Regions from separate parts of the Homo sapiens genome. Here all the other regions are reported to be linked to region 3. The links are microRNA targets in miRTarBase. Many come from high-throughput screens and were not tested one by one. Region 3 holds a microRNA gene; each other region holds the end of a gene's coding sequence. Distances are between the middles of the regions.
The links. The annotated mature microRNA hsa-miR-371a-5p reads ACUCAAACUGUGGGGGCACU and lies in region 3 at 1,062-1,081, shown strand. An mRNA with a match to its seed (bases 2 to 7 or 8) in the 3' UTR can be bound and repressed. Matches are read on the target gene's strand: a 7mer-m8 pairs with bases 2 to 8, a 7mer-A1 pairs with bases 2 to 7 and ends in A, and an 8mer does both.

Region 1: the mRNA of GMEB1 is a reported target of hsa-miR-371a-5p. Seed matches in the 3' UTR shown: 8mer at 2,122-2,129, 7mer-A1 at 1,794-1,800, 7mer-m8 at 1,628-1,634 and 7mer-A1 at 309-315.
Region 2: miRTarBase lists POFUT4 as a target of hsa-miR-371a-5p. The part of its 3' UTR that is shown has no 7-base or 8-base seed match.
Region 4: miRTarBase lists SGSM1 as a target of hsa-miR-371a-5p. Seed matches in the 3' UTR shown: 7mer-A1 at 1,820-1,826 and 7mer-A1 at 1,630-1,636.
Region 5: the mRNA of ZFP14 is a reported target of hsa-miR-371a-5p. Seed matches in the 3' UTR shown: 7mer-A1 at 296-302, 7mer-A1 at 1,826-1,832 and 8mer at 2,252-2,259.
Region 6: the mRNA of PXMP4 is a reported target of hsa-miR-371a-5p. Seed matches in the 3' UTR shown: 7mer-m8 at 1,359-1,365 and 7mer-A1 at 326-332.
Region 7: the mRNA of TMEM65 is a reported target of hsa-miR-371a-5p. The part of its 3' UTR that is shown has no 7-base or 8-base seed match.

Annotation. Positions count from the first base shown.
Region 1 is chr1:28,714,405-28,717,519 of GRCh38, reverse strand. It overlaps GMEB1 (glucocorticoid modulatory element binding protein 1), which reads right to left. Exons shown (of 10, transcript NM_001319674.2): 10 at 1-3,115. The coding sequence ends at 2,747. Among named protein-coding and RNA genes, the nearest start is that of YTHDF2, 21 kb to the left of the region's middle.
Region 2 is chr10:73,775,350-73,778,449 of GRCh38, forward strand. It overlaps POFUT4 (protein O-fucosyltransferase 4), which reads left to right. Exons shown (of 3, transcript NM_173540.3): 3 at 192-870. The coding sequence ends at 336. Among named protein-coding and RNA genes, the nearest start is that of POFUT4, 4.6 kb to the left of the region's middle.
Region 3 is chr19:53,786,619-53,789,733 of GRCh38, forward strand. It overlaps MIR371A (microRNA 371a), which reads left to right and starts at 1,057; the gene lies at 1,057-1,123. It overlaps MIR371B (microRNA 371b), which reads right to left and starts at 1,124; the gene lies at 1,059-1,124. MIR372 (microRNA 372) reads left to right here and starts at 1,272; the gene lies at 1,272-1,338. MIR373 (microRNA 373) reads left to right here and starts at 2,087; the gene lies at 2,087-2,155. It also overlaps LOC124904767.
Region 4 is chr22:24,923,673-24,926,787 of GRCh38, reverse strand. It overlaps SGSM1 (small G protein signaling modulator 1), which reads right to left. Exons shown (of 25, transcript NM_001098497.3): 25 at 1-2,602. The coding sequence ends at 2,514. Among named protein-coding and RNA genes, the nearest start is that of LHFPL7, 21 kb to the left of the region's middle.
Region 5 is chr19:36,337,466-36,340,465 of GRCh38, reverse strand. ZFP14 (ZFP14 zinc finger protein) reads left to right here. Exons shown (of 5, transcript NM_020917.3): 5 at 1-3,000. The coding sequence ends at 242. Among named protein-coding and RNA genes, the nearest start is that of LINC00665, 7.2 kb to the right of the region's middle.
Region 6 is chr20:33,705,276-33,708,275 of GRCh38, forward strand. It overlaps PXMP4 (peroxisomal membrane protein 4), which reads right to left. Exons shown (of 4, transcript NM_007238.5): 4 at 1-2,694. The coding sequence ends at 2,431. Among named protein-coding and RNA genes, the nearest start is that of PXMP4, 14 kb to the right of the region's middle.
Region 7 is chr8:124,311,203-124,314,317 of GRCh38, forward strand. TMEM65 (transmembrane protein 65) reads right to left here. Exons shown (of 7, transcript NM_194291.3): 7 at 1-2,859. The coding sequence ends at 2,758. Among named protein-coding and RNA genes, the nearest start is that of TMEM65, 60 kb to the right of the region's middle.

The DNA of each region.
Region 1 (3,115 bases), not on the chromosome of region 3:
CATAAATCTCATTCTTAAGAGTCACCTTCAGGCTGGGTGCGGTGGCTCATGCCTGTAATCCCAACACTTTGGGAGGCCAAGGCGGGCGGATCGCTTGAGGTCAGGAGTTCAAGACCAGCCTGGCCAACATGGCAAAACCCCGTCTCTACTAAAAATACAAAAATTACCCGGGCGTGGTGGTGGGAGCCTGTAATCCCAGCTACTCAGGAGGCTGAGGCAGGAGAATCACTTGAACCAAGGAGGCGGAGGTTGCAGTGAGCTGAGATCACACCATTGCACTCCAGCCTGGGCTACAGAGCAAGACTCCATCTCAAAAAGAAAAAAAAAAAAAAAACAGCAACCTTACCATGTTACAGGGTTTCTTTGACTACATACAGCCATCTGAGGGATGGAGAATGCAACTTTTACTTGCTCGATGGGGTTTCCAACATCTGTTGGAAGAAACATGGCTTCTGAAAGGTGCCTTCTTAAAAATAAAAAAGAAAAAAAAAAACTACAGGTCCAAGTTTTGTTTTTAATAAAAATATTCCTCCCACTCTTAAGGTGTGTGCTTTCTTTTTTGACCTATTTTTCCTTAAATTTGTCTGTAGTTTCCCTGTATCTCTATATTTTTCCTAGTGCAGTAAACAATGCAATCAAAGAAATAAAAACCAGGGTCCACTCTTGCCCCAAACACTGAAGAGGGTCAAAGAGAAGAAATCGCAGCACGGAAAATGGCCCAGCTCTAAATATACAAACAACATTAAAAACAAAACAAAACAAAATAACCCCCCCCCCCAAAGCATTATTATTGACATTCCTGGTACATTTCCTATAATATAATGTTGCAGACAATGCTTCTTTCCCAGGGAGTCCAGCTCACTCAAGAGACATCTAGTTGGTGCCTCAGGAAAGCCTGGGGGTGTTGAGTCCTCTCTGCCAAGCCTAAAGCTTTTTATGATCTCAGTATCTCACAGAAACATCTGTGGTATAAATGAATCTAAAAGGGGACGAAGGCAGGCAGGCACCTGTCACTGTTCTCCAAATCAGCCAAAAAGCTGAAGAGCGTGGGTTCTAGGAGACAGATGCCATTAAGAGTTGAGGGATGGAGGGCAGAACAAGAGGAAGCACCAAATGAGTGGCTGCTTTGGGTTCCAAAGCCAAAAAAATGGCCCCACCAAAAAAGGCAGCTGGTTTCATTGAGGAACTCCCTGCTCTTGGAGCCATGCAATGAAAATGATGGCCTTGGAGCCCCATCCCTGTGACAGCCACAGTCTAAGAACCAGAGCCATTTACATCACATTGCACAGTTTCAAATGAATGGACTGGTCCTAGCTTAGGAGGGTGAGTGCTTTGACAAAGTGTGGAACAAGGTAAGCTATTACCTTGAACCCCAAAGCACAGCTGCAGCATCCTTGGCTTTCCATTTCTTTCTTTTTTTTTGAGACGGAGTTTCACTCCTCGCCCAGGCTAGAGTGCAATGGCATGATCTCAGCTCACTGCAACCTCCGCCTCCCAGGTTCAAGCAATTCTCCTGCCTCAGCCTCCCAAGTAGCTGGGATTACAGGCGCGTGCCACCATGCCCAGCTAATTTTTTTTTTTTGTATTTTCAGTAGAGACGGGGTTTCACCATGTTGGCCAGGCTGGCCTCAAACTCCTGACCTCAGGTGATTCACCCACCTCGGCCTCCCAAAGTGCTGGGATTACAGGCATGAGCCACCGCACCCGGCCTTGGCTTTCCATTTCTGCAAAACCACAGGCCACTGCTGCCACTTGCTCTGTGGAGATGTACCTTCCACTTATTACCACCTTCTTCTCAAAATGGCACTCACGGTACTAACTTTTGGAGATCTCCAGAGGCGTCAGTTGCACCTCTGGAAGTAAGATGATTTCCCTGCCCCATACTTGCCAAAGCACTTTTTTTTTTTTTTTTTTTTGAGATGGAGTCTCGCTCTTGTTGCCCAGGCTGGAGTGCAGTGGTGCGATCTTGGCTCACTGCAACCTCTGCCTTCCCAGGTTCAAGCGATTCTCCTGCCTTGGCCTCCTGAATAGCTGGGATTACAGGCTCCCGCCACCACACCCGGCTAATTTTTTTTTCGTATTTTTAGTAGATACGGGGTTTCACCATGTTGGCCAGGCTGGTCTCAAACTCCTGACCTCGTGATCCACCCGCCTCGGCCTCCCAAAGTGCTGGGATTGCAGGCGTGAGCCACCACGCCCGGCTAGCACTTCCCTTTTTAAGCTAGTGCTGGCATGCCACCTTCCCCTCAAAGCAGAGTCAACTTCCTTTTGTTTGAGAGTTTTGTACTGGCCTCTGTAGGCCCTTTTCAGGATACAAAATAAAGTGCCCTTCAGCATCCACATGCGAGTGGGTTGCCTTCCAGTGTCAGATCTGTGTTCCAGAGTTTGGTCAATGCATCTTTACAAGAATAAAACCACATGCCTACACACACAGACGAGCCTGGAAATGGCTTTCTGGACAGGGTTACTTGTTATCTTGACACTTCCCCTAAAAGAAATTACTTTCTTGGTGTAAGATGATTAGGACATTGAATGACCTACTCTCAACTTCTGGAAGGGCAGCTTGTTTTGTCCATTTTTCAATGAGGGAGTGGGAAGAACCCAACATTTTCAGTTACAACAATAAGATTTTGTTTTTTTTTTTTTAAAAAAGGGTCCTATGTGGAAATGAGTGGGACAATGATAAAAATAAACAAATAATTAAAATTCCAAATCAAAACATAACTCCTGGCCCTGAGATCCCCAGTTAATCCTCTAAGACCACAATCTCCACATTGTGAACTTGATGCTGGTGTTCTTCCATCTCAGCCACAACTTTCTCCTCAGTCCTCAGCTCTGTCTCCAAGATGACTGCTTTGCCCTCAGTATCTTCAGCTTCTGGGTCCGGGGCTGGATCAATCTCAATGATGGTCTGCCCATCCTCTGAGGTGCTTTCAACAGCCTGAATTGCCGAGGTTAGGCCGGACTCCATGGCCACCAATTCCACAGGGCTAACCATGGTGGTCATGTTGCCCAGTGTACTCCCATCCTGCATGGCAGTAGAGCTCAGCAGCGCCAAGCTAGATGAAGGGTGGATGGTCACTGTGTCTGGTGAGCTGCTCTTGGCAGAGGAGAC
Region 2 (3,100 bases), not on the chromosome of region 3:
GTGTTTGTGACTTACTGCCTGTCGCTTGGGCTTATATTGGATTTACTTCACTTTGTCTTCCTTTCACAGCAGTCTTGTCCAAGTTAGAGACCACTGTATCTGCTTAAGATTTCTTTGGCCCCACTCGGAAAAAGGCAGGACTCATAACTATGCTGCAGTTCCATAATCCAACCCCCATTTTGATATTTCAGTTGGAAAGAGATGTGGCTGCAAGATTATTGGCAAGGTCTGGACCAGGGGGAAGCTCTCACTGCCATGATCCACAACAATGAAACAGAGCAGACGAAATTTTGGGATTACCTACATGAAATCTTCATGAAGAGGCAACATCTCTAAGTGCCCTTGCAAGAGCCTTTAACTTGGCGGAGCTAAGGAGATCTTATTCTACCATGGGACATAAGGAGCATCCACTGCACAAACCCTTAATGAACACTGTCTTTTCATGGATTCAAGGAATTCCAGTTTTATCTATTAAGATTTTATCTTAATGATGAGTAGCCAAGGTCTAACATAGGGCCTCTCCTCAAGGAGAGATGGAGGGATACAATTCTTGGTTCAGTGGGAAACAGAACCCTAAAACATCCATTTGATTCAAGGTGCTGGTCCAACAGAGTTTTTAAACTACTCACTTCTTTATTTCATCCTTTCGACTGTACTTGATTACCAGTGAAGTAAGATGGGTCAGGTTACGACTTACAACTTTTGTTCTATTCCCCAGACTCCTCATTATTCAGTACATTTCCCAATAATCTCTTTTTCTCATCTCTTGCTTTATAAATTGTTACGTTGGTGGAGAAGCAAAACATTTGGTGAGTTGTATTCTGGTTTTCCGGAGTTGGATTTTTTTATATTATATACTTTCATGTCAAACTTCTATTTTACTTATTTATTTATTTTTTTAAAATATTTTTTGTAGAGATGAGGTTTTGCCACATTGCCCAGGTTGGTCTCCAACTCCTGGATCAAGCAATCCATCCGCCTTGACCTCCCAGAGTGCTGGGTTTACAGGCATCAGCCACCTCACCCAGCCCTAATTTTTTTTTTTTTTTTGGCTTTTTCTGGCCAGGCGTAGTGGCTTATGCCTGTAATCCCAACACTTTGGGAGGCCGAGGAGAGGCGACTGCTTGAAGCCAGGAGTTTGAGACCATCCTAGCAAGACCTTGTCTCTAAAAAATAAAAGAATTAGCAGGGCATGGTGGTGCACACCTGTAGCCCTAGATACTTGGGAGGTTGAGGCAGGAGGATCACTTGAGTCCAGGAATTTAAGGCTGCAATGAGCTATGATCATGATCACTGCACTCCAGCCTGGGTGACAGAGCGAGACACCGTCTCAAATTATATATATATATTAAGATGGAGTCTTGCTTTGTCACCAGCTGGAGTGCAGTGGCATGATCTCGGGTCACTGCAACCTCCACCTCCCTGGTTCAAGCGATTCTCCTGCCTCAGCCTCCTGAGTAGCTGGGACTACAGGCATGCACCACCACGCCCAGCTAATTTTTTGTATTTCTAGTAGAGACAGGGTTTCGCCATGTTGGCAAGGATAGTCTCGATTTCTTGACTTCGTGATCCGCCCGCCTTGGCCTCCCAAAGTGCTGGGATTACAGGTGTCAGCCACCGCACCCGGCCTCAAATACATTTTTTTAATGGCCTTGTCTTTCCTGGTTTTAGGCCCTTTTCCACAATTTCTGATGGAAATACAGAAACCTTGCCATCATTCTTACTGCTGGTTTGCATCTCATTTATGGTGTATCTGGGATTTCTTCTCATGAACAGAAAGATTCAGTGGCTGTTATATGCCTTGTCAATTTAATGTATTGCCCTATCCTCTTTTTGATCAAAGATAGAGACTAAGACTGGGAATTATGACAGAAAAAGTCATATTTTTCTTTAAATGATTTTGAAATGTTAAAATAGGCCAATATGAGTCAAAGTGCAAATTTTTTGGTGAGTAGGTTGACAAAAAAAAAAAAAAATCCAGGAAAAAAAGTGCAAATTTTTATAGGTCCTAATTCTTTTGTTTGCCTAATGAAGTGTTCCCTCTATTTTATTGTTTTTATATGCTACAAAGTCCCATCTTCTGCAGTTATGGAAACAGTGTGGCTGTATGTTTTAGTAATTATTTCATAATCTGTAGCACTTTTCACTTTAAGTGCAATGAATAGTCCAGCTTCATTCACTGTATTACTAATACGCTTCCCTATGACTTTTTTTTTTTTTTTGAGATGGAGTTTCGCTCTTGTTGCCCAGGCTGGAGTGCAGTGGCGCGATCTCAGCTTACTAGAATCTCTGCATTCCCAGTTCAAGTGATTCTCCTGCCTCAGCCTCCCTAGTAGTGGGGATTACAGGCGCCCGTCACCACATCTAGCTAATTTTTGTATTTTTAGTAGAGATGGGGTTTCACCATGTTGGCCAGTCTGGTGTCGAACTCCTGAGCTCAGGTGATTCACTTGCCTTGGCCTCCCAAAGTCCTGGGATTACAGGCGTGAGCCACCGTGCCCAGGTGCCCCCACCTTTTTTTTTTTTTTGAGGCAGAGTCTCACTCCATCACCAAGGCTAGAGTGCAGTGGCGTGATTTTGGCTCACTGCAGCCTCTGCCTCCCAGGTTCAAGCAATTCTCGTGTCTCAGCCTCCAGAGTGGTGGGATTACAGGCACGCACTACCATGCCTGGCTAATTTTTTTGTATTTGTTTTAGTAGAAACAGGGTTTTGCCATGTTGGCCAGGCTGGTCTCGGACTCCTGACCTCAAGTGACCCACCCGCCTCGGCCTCCCAAAGTGCTGGGATTACAGGAGTGAGCCCCGTGCCCAGCCTGAGACTACTTTTTGATGGAGCCCACTCAAGGGGATGAGGAGGTTTAAGCCACAAGTGGCTGGCTAAATAAAAGCTTAGTCAGAGCTGGGCACGGTGGCTCACACCTGTAATCCCAGCTACTTGGGAGGCTGAGGCAGGAGAATTGCTTGAACCTGGGAGGCAGAGGTTGCAGTGAGCTGAGATCGCACCATTGCACTCCAGCCTGGGTGACGAGCGAAACTCCATCCCAAAAAAAAAAAAAAAAAAAAAGCTTAGTCAGATTTGGGGATGCAGCCAAACCCTTCTG
Region 3 (3,115 bases):
CTGGGATTACAGGTGTGAGCCACTGCGCTCTGCCAAAATACTATATTTAAATATTTGTTGAGTGGATGACTGGTGGAATGATTTTCTTCTGGTTATTTCTCTGTGTTTTCCAATGTATTTATAACGAATACATGTTGGCGTTACTAGTAATAGGGATCACCTAATTTCTATTTGAATCAGTGTTTGAAAAAGTTTATGAAGGTGTGTCTGACTAAGGCAAGCTAGGATCAAAGGGAGCAGGGTGGCTTGGGGCGGAGACCAGGGGGAATGAGAGGGTGGGAAGGGGTGGGCTTTAATCCTATCAAAGTTGAGTGGGCTCTCACCCTATATAAGAACGCAGCTGCAGTGAACCTTGTTCTTTCTGGCAGACCTGAGGTGTGGACGTATCATTGGCCTCTGTGAGTATTGCTATGTTATTTTATTTTCTTTCATTTTACTTTATTTTTTAGGGTCAGGATCTCACTGTCGCCCAGGATGAAGTGCACAGGTAGGATGATGGCGCCTTGCAGCCTCGACCTCCTGGGACTCACCCTTTTAGCCTCCAGTAGCTGGGACCACAGGCGCGCACCACCATTCCCATGTGCGTTTTTCTGCTTTTTTTTTTTTTTTTTTAGGAGAGATGGGGTTTTCTATGTTATCCAAGCTGGTCTCGAACTCCTGGGCTCAAGAGCAATCCTACCACCGTAGCCTTCCGAGTAGCTGGGACTACAGGCTTGAGCCACTCCGCCCAGCCGGGCTGTACTTTTGTTCTATTTCTGTGATTTTTTTTCAGTCTTAAGGACGAAGGCCCCACTGTCCCTCACACGTGTTCCTTCCTACTTGCATTGTACTCAGTCCTCATGGCTTGCATCTGGAGGCTATGGGCGGGGGAGTGCTTTGAATATCTATACGTGGAAAGCCTTGTTTTTTACTTTTTAAGAAAGGGTCGTTAAATTCGTGCTTTGTAGACCTTCAACAGCTCATCAAGGGCTACTCTCCACCTCCTTGCTTAAAAGCCTCTTCTGATGGGTAAGTGCTTCCACTTGCGATCGCCGCCTTGCCGCATCCCCTCAGCCTGTGGCACTCAAACTGTGGGGGCACTTTCTGCTCTCTGGTGAAAGTGCCGCCATCTTTTGAGTGTTACCGCTTGAGAAGACTCAACCTGCGGAGAAGATACCATTTTGATTGGGTGAGGGGGCGGGTAGCAGGATGGCCCTAGACCCTGCCTATGGCCGTTTCCTCGTGATATAAATTTCTTGGCCGGGGCTCTTGCAGATGGAGCTGCTCACCCTGTGGGCCTCAAATGTGGAGCACTATTCTGATGTCCAAGTGGAAAGTGCTGCGACATTTGAGCGTCACCGGTGACGCCCATATCAACGGATGCCGTGGAGCTCGGTCTTCTGCAGGAACTAAAGAGCCTGTGGTTTCGATTCCCAGCCGGAAACTGTCTTGGGTACAGGTCCCTTACAGCGTCTGGCTGTAATGGCTCCGGAAAACCTGGGGAAGGGAAGGGGGCCTCCTGGGCTCTCACCTGACACAACTAAGGGAATCTGGGTTAGATGGTGAAAGGAAGAGAAGGTTCAGAGGGCGGCTGTGCGCCTGCGCCGGGCGCGGCGGCTCACACCTGTAATCCCAGCACGTTGGGAGGCCGAGGCAGGCGGATCACGAGGTCAGGAGATCGAGACCATCCTGGCTAACACGGTGAAACCCCGTCTCTACTAAAAATACAAAAAATGAGCCGGGCGTGGTGGCGGGCGCCTGTAGTCCCAGCTACTTGGGAGGCTGAGGCAGGAGAATGGCGTGAACCCGGGAGGCGGAGTTTGCAGTGAGCCGAGATCGCGCCACCGCACTCCAGCCTGGGCGACAGAGCAAGACTCATTCTCAAAGAAAAAAAAAAAAAAAAACAGCAGCTGTGACCAAGGGGCTGTATGCACAAAGAAAGGAATGCTTTTTGCTGTTGGTGTTATAATTGATATGTAACTTTCCTCTTCCCCCATAGCAAGCAAGTTTATTGCTGACATTTAACATGTGCTTGGATGATTGGAGGCCAACCTCTTGTAGGCAAGAAAGTCACAGTGATGGCAGATCCTCGCGAGGAGCTCATACTGGGATACTCAAAATGGGGGCGCTTTCCTTTTTGTCTGTACTGGGAAGTGCTTCGATTTTGGGGTGTCCCTGTTTGAGTAGGGCATCACGAACCATCCTGCTTCAAGGGAGCCTGCGGGTCTGACTGCAGCTTCAGCTATGACCTGGAGTTCCCGGGCTTCTCTGCGGGGCACCAGTCTGTATGCTCCATTTTAGATAATAAAAATTGGCATATTCTGGGGTGGGCAGGATACGGGGTTCACCTGCAGATGAACAGGGCAGGAAAAGCTTGATGGGGTGTCGGGGGAATCTGGTTGGCCTTAAAGGGAATTTGGGGTCCTGTTCCTGAATTTGGTAGGCAGCATGCATGTAAGGCTTGAAGTGGGTTTGGCCAGAGCATGGGCTGGAGTGCTTCCACCCTGCTACACGGACAATGCCACAGTCTCACTTTTCCTAACTTTTTTTTTTAATAAAATGTGAACAACATCATGTGTTTCTGGTCTATTGGGTTCCTCTGCCACCCACAAGTGCTGGGATTACAGGCATGAGCCTCATGTCTGGCGTTACTGAACCTTCTTCTATGACCCAAGTACATTGCCTAAAAATACTTGTCAGTATTTTGTGCTTCCCTTCTACCCCTGCTAGAACTTAGAGTTATGCTCTTTGAGAGTTCTGCTCTTTAAACTTCAAACAAGTTTAAAAAGTAAGGCCGGGCACAGTGGCAGCACTGCCGAGGCCGACGCAGGCTGATCATGAGGTCAGATCAAGACCATCCTGGCTCACACGGTGAAACCACATCTCTACTAAAAAATACAAAAACATTAGCCGGGCATGGCGGTGGGTGCCTGTAGTCACAGGCTGAGGCAGAAAGGGCATGAACCCGGGAGGTGGAGCTTGCAGCCAGCCGAGGTTGTGCCACTGCACTCCAGCCTGGGTGACAGCGATAACTGTCTCAAAAAATAAAAACCACCCAGGCTGAAGTGTGGTGGCACCATCACAGCTCCCTGCAGGCCTGAGCTCCCTAGATCAAAAGATCTTCCCATATAAGCCC
Region 4 (3,115 bases), not on the chromosome of region 3:
ACATTTACAAGATATGTGGGCCACACTGAAAAAAAGAGTGCACTCCGCGGACAGAACGAGTCCCACGCATCCAATTCCAGGACACAGAAACACACACAACATACAGAGATCTGAATAGGCACAGTAAACCAAATAAATATGACTTATTCCAAATCACAACCACAGATGCTCTCTGGAACATCACAAGAGAAGGCAGAGAAGAGATTTTGTGCTGTACTTTGAGACTAGTCTGTTAAAAAAATAAATAGGAATCAGAAGGTCTAGGACCTGGGTCTCACTAAAATAACATCCTCTGTAAAGAACAGCTGAACGGCAAAATAGTTTTCTCCGGAGGGGCCTTTTGCACATTTCTTCCTGTCTTGGGAAGCTAGGGGACGTAGGGGAGGGAGACGTAAGTCTAATGGCAGCCAGAACGTTGCCGTCTCCCGTTTCTGCTTTGGTGGGGGTAGGGTAGGAGCTGGGAGCCGGGAAGCTACTGTAGCCTCGAGTTTCCCACAGAGCTCTCTTCAGGAAGTAAGGGCTGGCTAGACCTCTATCCACCCTGCACCAGAGGCTGGGCAGAGGTTGGAGGTTCAGGTGCAGTTGAAGTTGCTATACCAAGGGAAAGAAGCCTTTACAAGCACACAAGGCAAGGATGCATCCCCGTCCTGGTGTGCTCAGGGTGGGAGGACTAATACACCCCTCCGCAAATGCTTCAATACGCTGCTTTACCTATCCTCTCCCTCTCCAAAATCCCAGCTGCTATTCTCTGACCACCCTAGAGGCGGCAGGTCTCCCGGGAAGAGCCTTTCTCTCTGCTGCTTGCTGGGTTTCCCCCATTCCGGGTGCATTCTCAGAACAGAAGAGCGGGAAAGACTGCTCTATTGAAAGGACAGGTAGGCAGAGTAAACTAGTTCACTTCGGGTCTGTTTGTGGATTGGTGATACTCTGTGTGAAGACCTGGAGAGGATTGTTCCCAGACCTAGCACGGCCCTGGACCCAGTTCATCAGCAGATGTTTCCCAAGGAAAACAGACATCACCCTCTACCCTGGCTGACCTCTGCCTTCCTTTTCCTCCTTTGTCCTGAGTGAGTAACTGCACTTAGAGAAAAGCTGCACCCCACCACCATTAAGTGGCTTTCACCAAACACACACCTTTCCAAGACCCAATACTTGGAAGGAGAGGCGGTTTTCCCTTGCAAGATGGCAGCAGGATACAGACTCTGCCCTGCCTGGGGGACTCTGAGCAGGACCCCAAAGAGCTCTGACCGTCTCATGCCTACACTTTTTGGGTCCACCGCCTATGTGGGGAGATACTTTTCTTGAAAAGAAGAAAACAAGTATCTTCTGGCATCAGACAGAGGAGAAAAAAGGAGAAAATACAACAGATGGAATCCCAGACTCCAAGAGAGATGTGTGAGGGACTCTTGTGTGCCTTTTCTTTTTTTTTTTGAGATGGAGTCTTGAACTGTCGCCCGGGCTGGAGTGCAGTGGCGTGATCTCAACTCACTGCAACCTCCACCTCCCAGGTTCAAGTGATTCTCCTGCCTCAGCCTCCCAAGTAGCTGGGATTACAGGCACCCGCCACCACACCCAGCTAATTTTTGTATTTTTAGTAGAGATGGGGTTTCACCATGTTGGCCAGGCTGGTCTCAAAACTCCTGACCTTGTGATCCGCCCACCTTAGCCTCCCAAAGTGCTGGGATTACAGGTGTGAGCCACCATGCCCGGCCTCCTGTATGCCTTTTCTAAGTGAGGGGAGGCGTCAGGACCAGGGTGGCTTAGCGTCAAAAGAATGGGGGAGGAAGTACATTTGTAGTCCCTTCTCCAAGCCAGTGGTTCTCAAATGGGGGCAATTTTGCCCTGCAGGGAACATTTCGCAATGTCTAGAGACATTTTTGGGGGCTGTCACAACCAGGGGTATGGTTGGGGGATGGCACTACTGGCATCTGGTGAGGCCCGGGATGCTGCTCAGCATCCTACAATGCAGGGGACAGTCCCCTCAAAAAGAATCACCTGGCCCCAAATGTCAGTAATGTCGAGGTGGAGGGTCAATCTCTAAGTCAATCTTCAGCCATGTCCAGAACATCGCCAAAGGCCCCTTGCAGAGGAGCATAGAGGTAGCCCCACACACCTCTTCTACACCAATTTCCAAAAAGAAGTTTCCTCCCCAGGTCTCATCTTACAAGACAGTTTGGAGGGATAGGGAAAGAAGAAGAGGAGACCATTCCGGGCACCAGCAAACAAAGATGGCTCCTCCTCCACCAACAACCTCCACCTCCTGCAAGGGAGGAACGCCAGACTTGGGCAATCTTTGGTCAAACAGGAAAATGTAAGGCTGAATTGAAGGGGTACTCCCTCCACCCCATCTGCCCAGAAGTAAAAGTCAGGGTAGTTTCTTTGCGCACTGAACTCCACGCTTGTGAACAGACACCAGGACCCCGCTCCCGGGGTGCCCATCCAGCCAGGAGGAAAAGTAAGCAGAGGAGCGGGGCAGGGGCAGCTTGGCTGAGGCTGCCGGGGTGAGGTGCCCCTCACTTGTTCTCAATCAGAGTCTGCACCTTGTACACGAGGTCCCGCGCCAGCTTCAGGACTTGCTTGGTGTTGTGTCGCTCAGCCATTTCTGAAAGAGCAGAAAGAAAAATCTCATGAGCCTCCTTCTGTGTCCAGTCTTAGGGTACAATTCCAGCCCCTGGAGGCTTCTCTGGGGGCATCTCCATCACAGATTGACTCAGGAAGCAGAGGCCCTGGAGAAGGCCTCTACCTCTGGACCTTAGTTTCCTCATCTGTAAAATGGGGATTGGAACAGCAGCCACCTCACCAAGTTACTGTGCGGATTGAATGGGATAATGCTGGTTCACAGGATGTGCCATAAAAAGGTGAGGTCGGCCGGGCATGGTGGCTCATGGCTGTAATCCCAGCACCTTGGGAGGCCGAGGCAGGTGGATCACCTGAGGTCGGGAGTTTGAGACCAGCCTGACTAACATGGAGAAACCCTGTCTCTACTAAAAATACAAAACTAGTCGGGTGTGGTGGCGCATGCCTGTAATCCCAGCTACTCAGGAGGCTGAGGCAGAAGAATCGCTTGAACCCAGGAGGCGGAGCTTGTGGTGAGCCGAGATTGCACCACTGCACT
Region 5 (3,000 bases), 17 Mb from region 3:
GTAAGGAATGTAGAAAACCTTTTAGACTGCTCTCACAACTTACCCAACATCAGAGTATTCACACTGGTGAGAAACCTTATGAATGTAAGGAATGTGGTAAGGCTTTTAGACTTTATTCATTTCTTACTCAACACCAGAGAATTCATACTGGTGAGAAGCCCTACAAGTGTAAGGAGTGTAAGAAGGCCTTTAGACAGCATTCACACCTTACTCAGCATCAGAAGATTCATAATGGAATTTAATAGAAGAAAGCCTTCAAATGTATATGATGTTACAGAACATCAGAAAATTCATTTTTGAGAAAATGTGTTTCATGCTCAATTCCAAGCATAATAAATTTTATATTAGAGAAAGAATATGTTGATTTAAAAGCCTTCCAACACCATTTAAACATGGTTTATCTTCAGCAAATTCCTATGAGAGAATAATGTAATGAATGTAGGAAAATCTTTAGCCTTATCTGTCATTATCTCCCTTTCTCCACTTGATTACCAGTTTGATTTATTGGACAAGATACTAAGCTTCTGTGCCTCATTTTGCTGACTTGTAAAATGGTAATAATAGTACTTATATGTATTAGTTATTTATTGCTGCGTAATAAATTACCACAGACTTAGTAGCATAAAATAACATATAATTATATCTTATAATTTGGATCAGGAGTATAGGCATGACTTAGTTGGGTCCTCTGCTTCAGGGTCTCTTGCAAGGCTACAGATTTCAGCCAGGGCTGAGGTCTCATCTGAAGGCTCAACTGGGGAAGGATCCACATCCAGACTAACATAGTTGTTACCCAATGTATTTCCGTGAGGCCTGTTGCATTGAGATTCTCAGTTTCTAGCTGGCTGTTGGCTGAACGCTGACTGCAGCTCCTGGCCACAATAGCCTCATCAACATGGCTGCTTGCTTCATCAAGGCATGCAAGCCAAAAGGGAGGACAGTCTGCTAGCAAGATGGAAGTTACCATCTTGTGTAATCTAATCATGGAAGTAACATTCCCTCACCTTCTACTGGTAGAAGTAAGTTACTAGGATAGTCCACACTCAAGAGAACGGGATGATACAAGAGTGTGAATAAGTCCTGGAGACAGGACCACTGGGGGGCCTGTTTAGAGTCAGCCTGCCACACTGTGGAATAGGATTGTTGCAAGGAGTAAGTAGTTAATACTTGGAGGAATCACAGTCATATAGCATGTATTCTGTAAATATTATCTGTAATTGTTATTATTGTCATTAGTATTAGTGAATTCACGTAAAAGGAAGATCTGTAGACATAATAAATGTAGAAATGCCTCCTGTCACCTCTCAGAAATTATTAAACATAATTTATTCTAGGTAAAATTTAGATTGTAGTGAATGTAGGAAGTTCTTCAGCACTTGAGCTGCATTAGAAATTTCATGCCAAAAATGAATTTCATGAATGTGAGGTCACTAGTAATACAGCTGTTGAAGAATTAGAGGGAAATAGGAAATGATTTTCCCATAATTCCAGAAAGCAAAAGGCTTACAATCCCTGTTGTCTGACCACAGTTTAAAATTAATTAGAAACTATCAAAAATGTGGCTTAAAAGAAATTAACCACCTAGGAATTTAATATTGTTGTGTATATTTATGTGTGTGTATAAAACTCCTGTGGGAAAGAAACAAAACATCATTCTATAAGTCAGTATACTTTTGGATGCTCAAAATGCCATATCTTCAACCAGTAGGAGTTGTTTCAAGTTGAGTTTTTGATGTGATCCCACCAATAATTTGATAGTTTACTTGATTGTGGCTGCATAATTTGGTAACCTATGAAAGATGCTAGAGCACCAATGTATAATTTTTTTGAGACAGGGTGTCACTTTGTCCCCCAGGCTGGAGTGCAGTGGTACAAGCACAGTTCACTGTACCCTGTTCCTCCTGGGCTCAAGTGATTCTTCCACCTAAATTTTTTTTTTTTTTTTAGAGAAAGGGTCTCACTATGTTGCCCAGGCTGGTCTTGAACTTCTGGGCTCAAGTGATCCTCCCTCCTTGGCCTCCAAAGGTGCTGGGGTTACAGGTATGAGCCACCACACCCAGCCCAACTCATTATTCTTGAAATCAATAAATCAGAGGAAAAATTGTCATTTAGTTTCCTTTTCCCATGTGAACCAAATTTCAGGGTCACCAGAAGTTCATCAAATTCAAATGAATTTGGCCTGGCACAGGGGTCACACCTGTAATCCCAGCACTTTGGGAGGACAAGGTGGGTGGATCACTTGAGGCCAGGAGTTTGAGACCAACCTGGTTAACATGGTGAAACCCTGTCTGTACTAAAAATACAAAATTTAGCCAGGCATGGTGGCACACACCTGTAGTCCCAGGCTGAGGTGGGAGGATCACTTGAACCCAAGAGGCAGAGTTTGCAGTGAGCTGAGATCGTGCCACTGCACTCCAGCCTGGGTGACAGAGTGAGACCCTGTCTCAAAAAAAAAATTTGTTTTTTGAATGGGTTTTTCTTTTTTGAAGAAGTCTAATAAATCTAGAAGGAATTAGAGGATTAGAAAAATCACCATTTTCTAGACCTTAATGGAATAATGGGTCCAGAAAACATGATCTTCAATGGGTACTACAACTAATAGGTGAAATATTTTATAGCGAGATTTTTATGGTGGATCTATCAAACTGGCCACCTCTGAACCCTTTGATCTGTTTTAACCTTAATAAAAATGGGTCTATCAGACAACACACTTCCTGACGTAATGCAATAGGAAGTCCACACCACCATCTACAAAGCCTTATTGCTGGAATAATGAACTGAAAGCAGACAGGGACTAGATGAACAGTATATGGTCATCCCTTGGTATCCATGGGGAATTGGTTCCAGGATCCTCCACTGATGGTAAAATCTGAGGATGCTCAAGTCCCTTGTATAAAATGGCATAGTATGTATTTGCATATTACCTACTCACATCTTCCTGTATACTTTAAATTATCTTTAGATCACTTATACCTATCACAATGTAAATACTATGTAAAT
Region 6 (3,000 bases), not on the chromosome of region 3:
CACCGTGCCTGGTCTAGGATCGTGGTTTCGAAAAAAGCAGACTTGGCCAGGCATGGTGGCTCACACCTGTAATCCCAGCATTTTGGGAGGCCAAGGTGGGTGGATCATGAGGTCAGGAGATTGAGACCATCCTGGCTAACACGGTGAAACCCCATCTCTACTAAAAATACAAAAAATTAGCCGGGTGTGGTGGCGGGCACCTGTAGGCCCAGCTACTCCGGAGGCTGAGGCAGGAGAATGGTGTAAGTAAACCTGGGAGGCAGAGCTTGCAGTGAGCCAAGATCGCGCCACTGCACTCCAGCCTGGGCGAGAGAGCAAGACTCTGTCTCAAAAAAAAAAAAAAAAGAAAAAATCAGACTGGTACACAAGTCTCCAGTTCCCTATGTCCCCATCACTCCTCATCGCATAGCACTATGTCATTGTAGGCCCCTATGGGCATTTGAATGTGTACCCCTTTCTGGCCCATATCCTATAATGAGCTAACATTTGCATAGCATGGCTTAGGTTTCTAAATTTGAAACAAGGCACTGGAAAAAACATGGGCTTTGAAATCAGACGAATCTGAGTTCAAATCTTGATTCGGCTGTTATACTAGCTGTATTACCTTGGGCAAGTTACTCTCCTCTCTGATTCTCAGTTTCTTTTCTTTTCTTTTTTTATTTTTTTTTTAGACACAGTCTCGCTCTGTGGCCCAGGCTGGAGTGCAGTCGTGCGATCTCAGCTCACTGCAGCCTCTGCCTCCCAGGTTCAAGCGATTCTCCTGCCTCAGCCTCCCCAGTAGCTGGGATTACAGGGACGTGCCACCATGCCTGGCTAATTTTTGTATTTTTAGTAGAGATGGGGTTTTACCATGTTGGCCAGGCTGGTCAAGAACTCCTGATCTCAGGTTATCTGCCTGCCTCAGCCTCCCAAAGTGCTGGGATTACAGGCGTGAGCCACTGCACCTGGCCTGACCCTCAGTTTCTACATCTGTAAAATGGGGACGAAAACACACATTTGCAAGGCCACTGTATGGTTTAAAAATAATATGTGCAGGCTAGGGGCAGTGGCTCATGCCTGTAATCATGGCACTTTGGGAGACTGAGGCAGGAAGATTGCTTGAGGCTAGGAGGTCGAGACTAGCCCTAGTGACAGAGCGAGACCCTGTCGCTACTTAAAAAAAAAAAATAATAATAATATGTGGAAAACACCCAAGTGGAAGTATGAATGCACTAAATGAAAGTAATTAGTAGCACATCAGTGGTAGTTGCACAAGTCCAGTGAGGACCACGGCATTATGATTATCCTCATTTTATGATAAATTGAGGCTCTGAGAGGTCCAGAACCTTCCCCAAGGTTACACAGTGGGGGAGTGGGGACTCAAACCCATGTCCTCTAGCTCTAGATCTGCACTGTCCACTAGAATAATCTGTGAGGATACAAGTGTTCCATATCTGTGTTGCCCGTCACAGCAGCCACTAGCCACATGTGGCTACTGGGTCCTGAAAATGTGGGTGGCAAAATATACACCCAATTTTGAATACTTAATACAAAAAAGAGTACAAAATATCTAATGATGTTAATTATATGTTGAAATAACTTTTAGAAATTTGTGTTAAAATATATAGTGAAGATTAATCTCACCTTTTTTTTTTCTTTGGTGAGACAGGGTCTCACTGTCGCCCAGGCTGGAGTGCAGTGGCGTGATCTTTGCTCACTGTAGCCTCGACCTCATAGGCTCAAGTGATCCTCCCACCTCAGCTGGAACCACAGGTGATGGAACCCGGCTAATTTTTTGTATTTTTTGTAGAAACTGGGTTTCACCATGTTGCCCAGGCTGGTCTCAAGCTCCTGAGCTCAAGTGATCCACCTGCCTCAGCCTCCCAAAGTTCTGAGATTACAGGAGTGAGCCACAGTGCCCAGGCTTCTTTTTTGTAATGCAGCTACTAGAAACATTTTAATTACATATATGGCTCACGTGTTTCTATTGGACAGTGGGAATCTAGAACTTCTCCAGTAGAACAGCATCTGAGATAAGGAACTTAGTGTTTTTTAAAAAGTATTTACAACCCACTGCCCACCAGCAAGGAGCCCTCTGTGACATAAGAACAGTTGAAGAATGAACATACCCACCGGAAAGAGACCTCAGGGCCCTCCTCTGAGCTCCTTGACCCCTGAGGCCTAGAGAGTAGTGTGGCTGGCCCCAGTCTCACAGAAGTCAGCTGCACAGCTGGAACCAAGCCGTAGATTCCTCAGCCTGATTCGGCCACTTGTGCCACCATACAAAGGTACCCACTGGGATTTTAAAATCAGTGTTTTTACTTCAGCAAACGGAACCCTGGGATAACACCAGTTGGAGTCTGAGGCCTATGATCTTGAGAAGGCAGTATCCTTTGGGAGGGTCTGCATGGGGCCAAATCTTGAGCCACAGCCAGACACCTCAGGGCTGCATTAATTGGAGGGACGGCTCTTGTTATAGACGAGGAAGTCTGAGATGTCGTGCCATACATTGCTGTCCTCATAGAGGTAGGTCATGGAGGACTGCAGCGAGGGCTGCAGGGTGGATCGGTGATACTCAAAGAGCCACAGCACCAGCCCCCACACCACCGCAGTGAGCAGCGGGAACGGGTCCCACCTGGGTTCAGGGATGTAGCCCTTCTCTACAGCCAGGCGGCTCAGGGCAAACAGGACGCGTGACAACAGGTACATGTTGATCTGCAAAGAGGGAATGATGGGAATTACTGGTGATCAATAGTGATGTCCCTCTTTTGTTTTTGATATTAATAATTTGTTTCATTTCTCTTTTTTTCTTAGAGAGCCTGGCTAGGGGTTTATTTATTTTAATTATCTCTTCAAAGAATCAACTTTTGGTTTAGGTCCTTTTCTCTATTGATTTCCTGTTTGCAATTTCATTGATTTCTGTACTAATTTTTTTTTTTTTTTTCTGAGACAGAATCTGGCTCTGTCGGCTAGGCTAGAGAGAGTGGGCTTACTGGATCTCGGCTCACTGCAACCTCCACC
Region 7 (3,115 bases), not on the chromosome of region 3:
TGATGTTGTATCTCAGGTGCAGATTCCAGGGAGGTGGTAAATTGTTCCATTCACTATCTCAGTGACATTGCTGCCACCTTGTAACAAATCCGTATTCATTAATCCTGTTTGCTTTAGTAACAGAATATACCAAGGCCCTCTGAGATTAGTAAGAAATCAAATTTCAAAATCAAAACCACATTCCAAATTTCTTAAAAGATACTTTTTTTGTTCAATTCCTTTGTAAAAACATTGGTCACCATTTAACATACATGGCAACAAAATGCACCCAATTTACATGCATCAACAAGTTAATAAATCATAATACATGGACAACACAAATTTAAACAAACAGGACTAAAGTAGCTCATGTTGCATTTAACTATGGTTCTTGTGCTCCTAATAGAGAAGTAGCTAATATGAGAAACAAACAGTTCCAGTTTCAACCTAAATTAAAGTTATTTGTGGCAAGTAACATGAAACAATGATCATATGAAGTCATTATCTTAAAAAGAACCATTCTTCAGAAATCACTTTGTGGCAAAGCACCATACTAGGGTAGACTATGATCTTAAACATATACCTTCAGTTAAAGACAAATGGTCTCCATTTTTTGAAAATTACCTGAATGATTCAAATTTTTATTATGCCCATAAATTAAAATTATCTTTCAATGTGAAGGTTATATATTTTGACACCTTAAATAATTCTGGAGATGTTCAGTTAAACCAGTAATTCCCTGGGACCAGATTACTTTCAAGAGCAAGAAGAAAAAACAATAATCAAAAGCCCTTTCTAAAGTCACAGGCAAGGTTTCTGATACGGGATTTAATTAATAAGAAGTTAAGCACCACAGTAAAATACATTTTTAGAAAACAGAGTGGACTGCCATCAATACACAAGTTAGGGACAAAAGAAAGCACTTACACTTTACCCCACCCTTCCCCCCCCAAAAATTTAAGCACTCTAATCCTATCAATCAGAAATTTTACAAAGGATTTTTTGTGTGGTTATCTGTGTGTGGTTATTATATGGAAGATACAAACCGAAATTCTATTTAAGATCTCAAGTTCTAGAATCATGATTTGATTCAGTAAGAATGTCACATTATTTGTGCATGTTATATATTTATTTTTAGATTATATGCTATATTTTTATGCTTTCTCTCCTCAAAGTCTATGATTAAAGGATGGCACTTATGCATTCTGAAGCGCATGAGAGAATTTATGACAAACTGCCTTGTGAAAAAATATCTACTCTGAAGAGTTCAAAGTAATTATGTATAAATAAAACCTTAAAATAAACTGCTGTAAAACCTCTGCATCTATTTAGCAACACAAATAACTTCAAAAGCCAAAATACTATTTTAATTTTAAGTTTCTCTCCTCCATGATGTGTTTAATTACGCTGTTACAAGTAAGACTAATTTTTTAGCATGTGTAACAGACCACATGCTAAAAAAGTTTAAGGGTTCAGAAAACTAAAATTTATAATTCTTACATGGTTATACTTAAGCCAGAAGTACAAGACTAGAAATAAGTAACTTCAACCTAAAATATGCTTTAAATACCACAAAAGAAGAAAAAAGAAAAACAAAGGGAAAAAGGATTTCTCCTCATGTAATTTTTGAGTAGACTATGTAGCAAAAAAGCAAAATATTAAATATCTAGTTTTCACTTCAACAGAAATTATTCATAAATAAAATTCACTAAATAAGATATAATGAGATTAGGAGTATGAATATGGGGTATTCAGACTTATTCCATTCAGATGAGAAGATGACATCTTTGGAGGGAAAAAAAAAAACCTTACCAAATAATATAAATTGTATCTCATTAATCTTTCAAACATCACTTCAACTTCATCATTTATACCATAAACCTTCTTGACAGTTCCTATTTTCCACCTTTTTTTAAAAAAAGCTTTAGTCTCTTAATTTCCAAGCATCATGTTAAATCCCTTAGTTCAATCTAATTCCACAATCCCCATTTCAAAGACTCTAAAATAATCATTTGCTTCCCCTCAAAAGTCAGAATCCACCATGTAATTATTCAAAACTGGGAAACTAAAAGGTTAAAAAAAATCAACTAAAAATTGTACGCTTGTTAGTATACACGGTTTCATGTAGCAGGGAGACCACATAATTGCTCTTTGTGATTAACCCTCTGGCCCTTAAAATAGTAAAGTCAGAAAATTAAAATAAGTAATATATACTTAAAATACTTAAAACCTGTATCTATATCCATTTTCAATAGATGTGACAGTTAAGAAATGACTGAAATTATATTATTATAAATGTTTACTGCATAACAGTACAAAATTGATGTTCCCAAAAAGAGGGTAAAAAAATCTTTAACTGACATTAAACATCTTAAGTAATTTGGAAAAATCCCAAGGTTGAAATGTAACTATCAGGGAACAACGAAAAATGCTTTCATGCATGTACACATGTTAAGTAACAAATAAGCAAACCCCAAGTCAATACAGTACATCAATGACACTTAAATAACATTATGAATATAAAAAGAAAGGATAAAATGTTGACTGCTATTGATGAAAAAGCATTTCAACAATATACACAAAATGATACTAAACAGCTTTTTAAAAAAGATGTCCTAAGAAGATCAAGCCACAATAAGTTAGTGTTTTCCATAATACATGCTAAATTATTTGATCCCATATCTATACTGTTACTGTCTTAATTCCTAAATGTTGTGACAGCATATTTAATTACTGAGGTACATTAGTTTACATCTTTTTATAGGTATTCTAAGAGGATTAACTTTTCGTTTCCAGTTTTTCATCTTCTTCACCTCCTCCAAAGAAAATTAAAGGAAACATTCCTAGAATGCAGCCAATAGTCACCCCAACAGCTTTGCCCTAAGGAAACAAAAGAGAACATTTTTAAAGTTACTTTATCTCTGATAACAAGAAGGCAGAGAAAAAATCTCACCAGCTCTTCTCAATATATTTGGATTTGCTACCCTTCATATATATTCCTCTTCAATATTTATCCCTGTGTATACCTAATTATATGTAGATATAATCATTATGTAAACATAGCTTTGTTTTCTTCCTCAATCCGTACCCCTGCATAGCCACACATTTTCTCACAAACTCTTTTCCAAACTGCTAC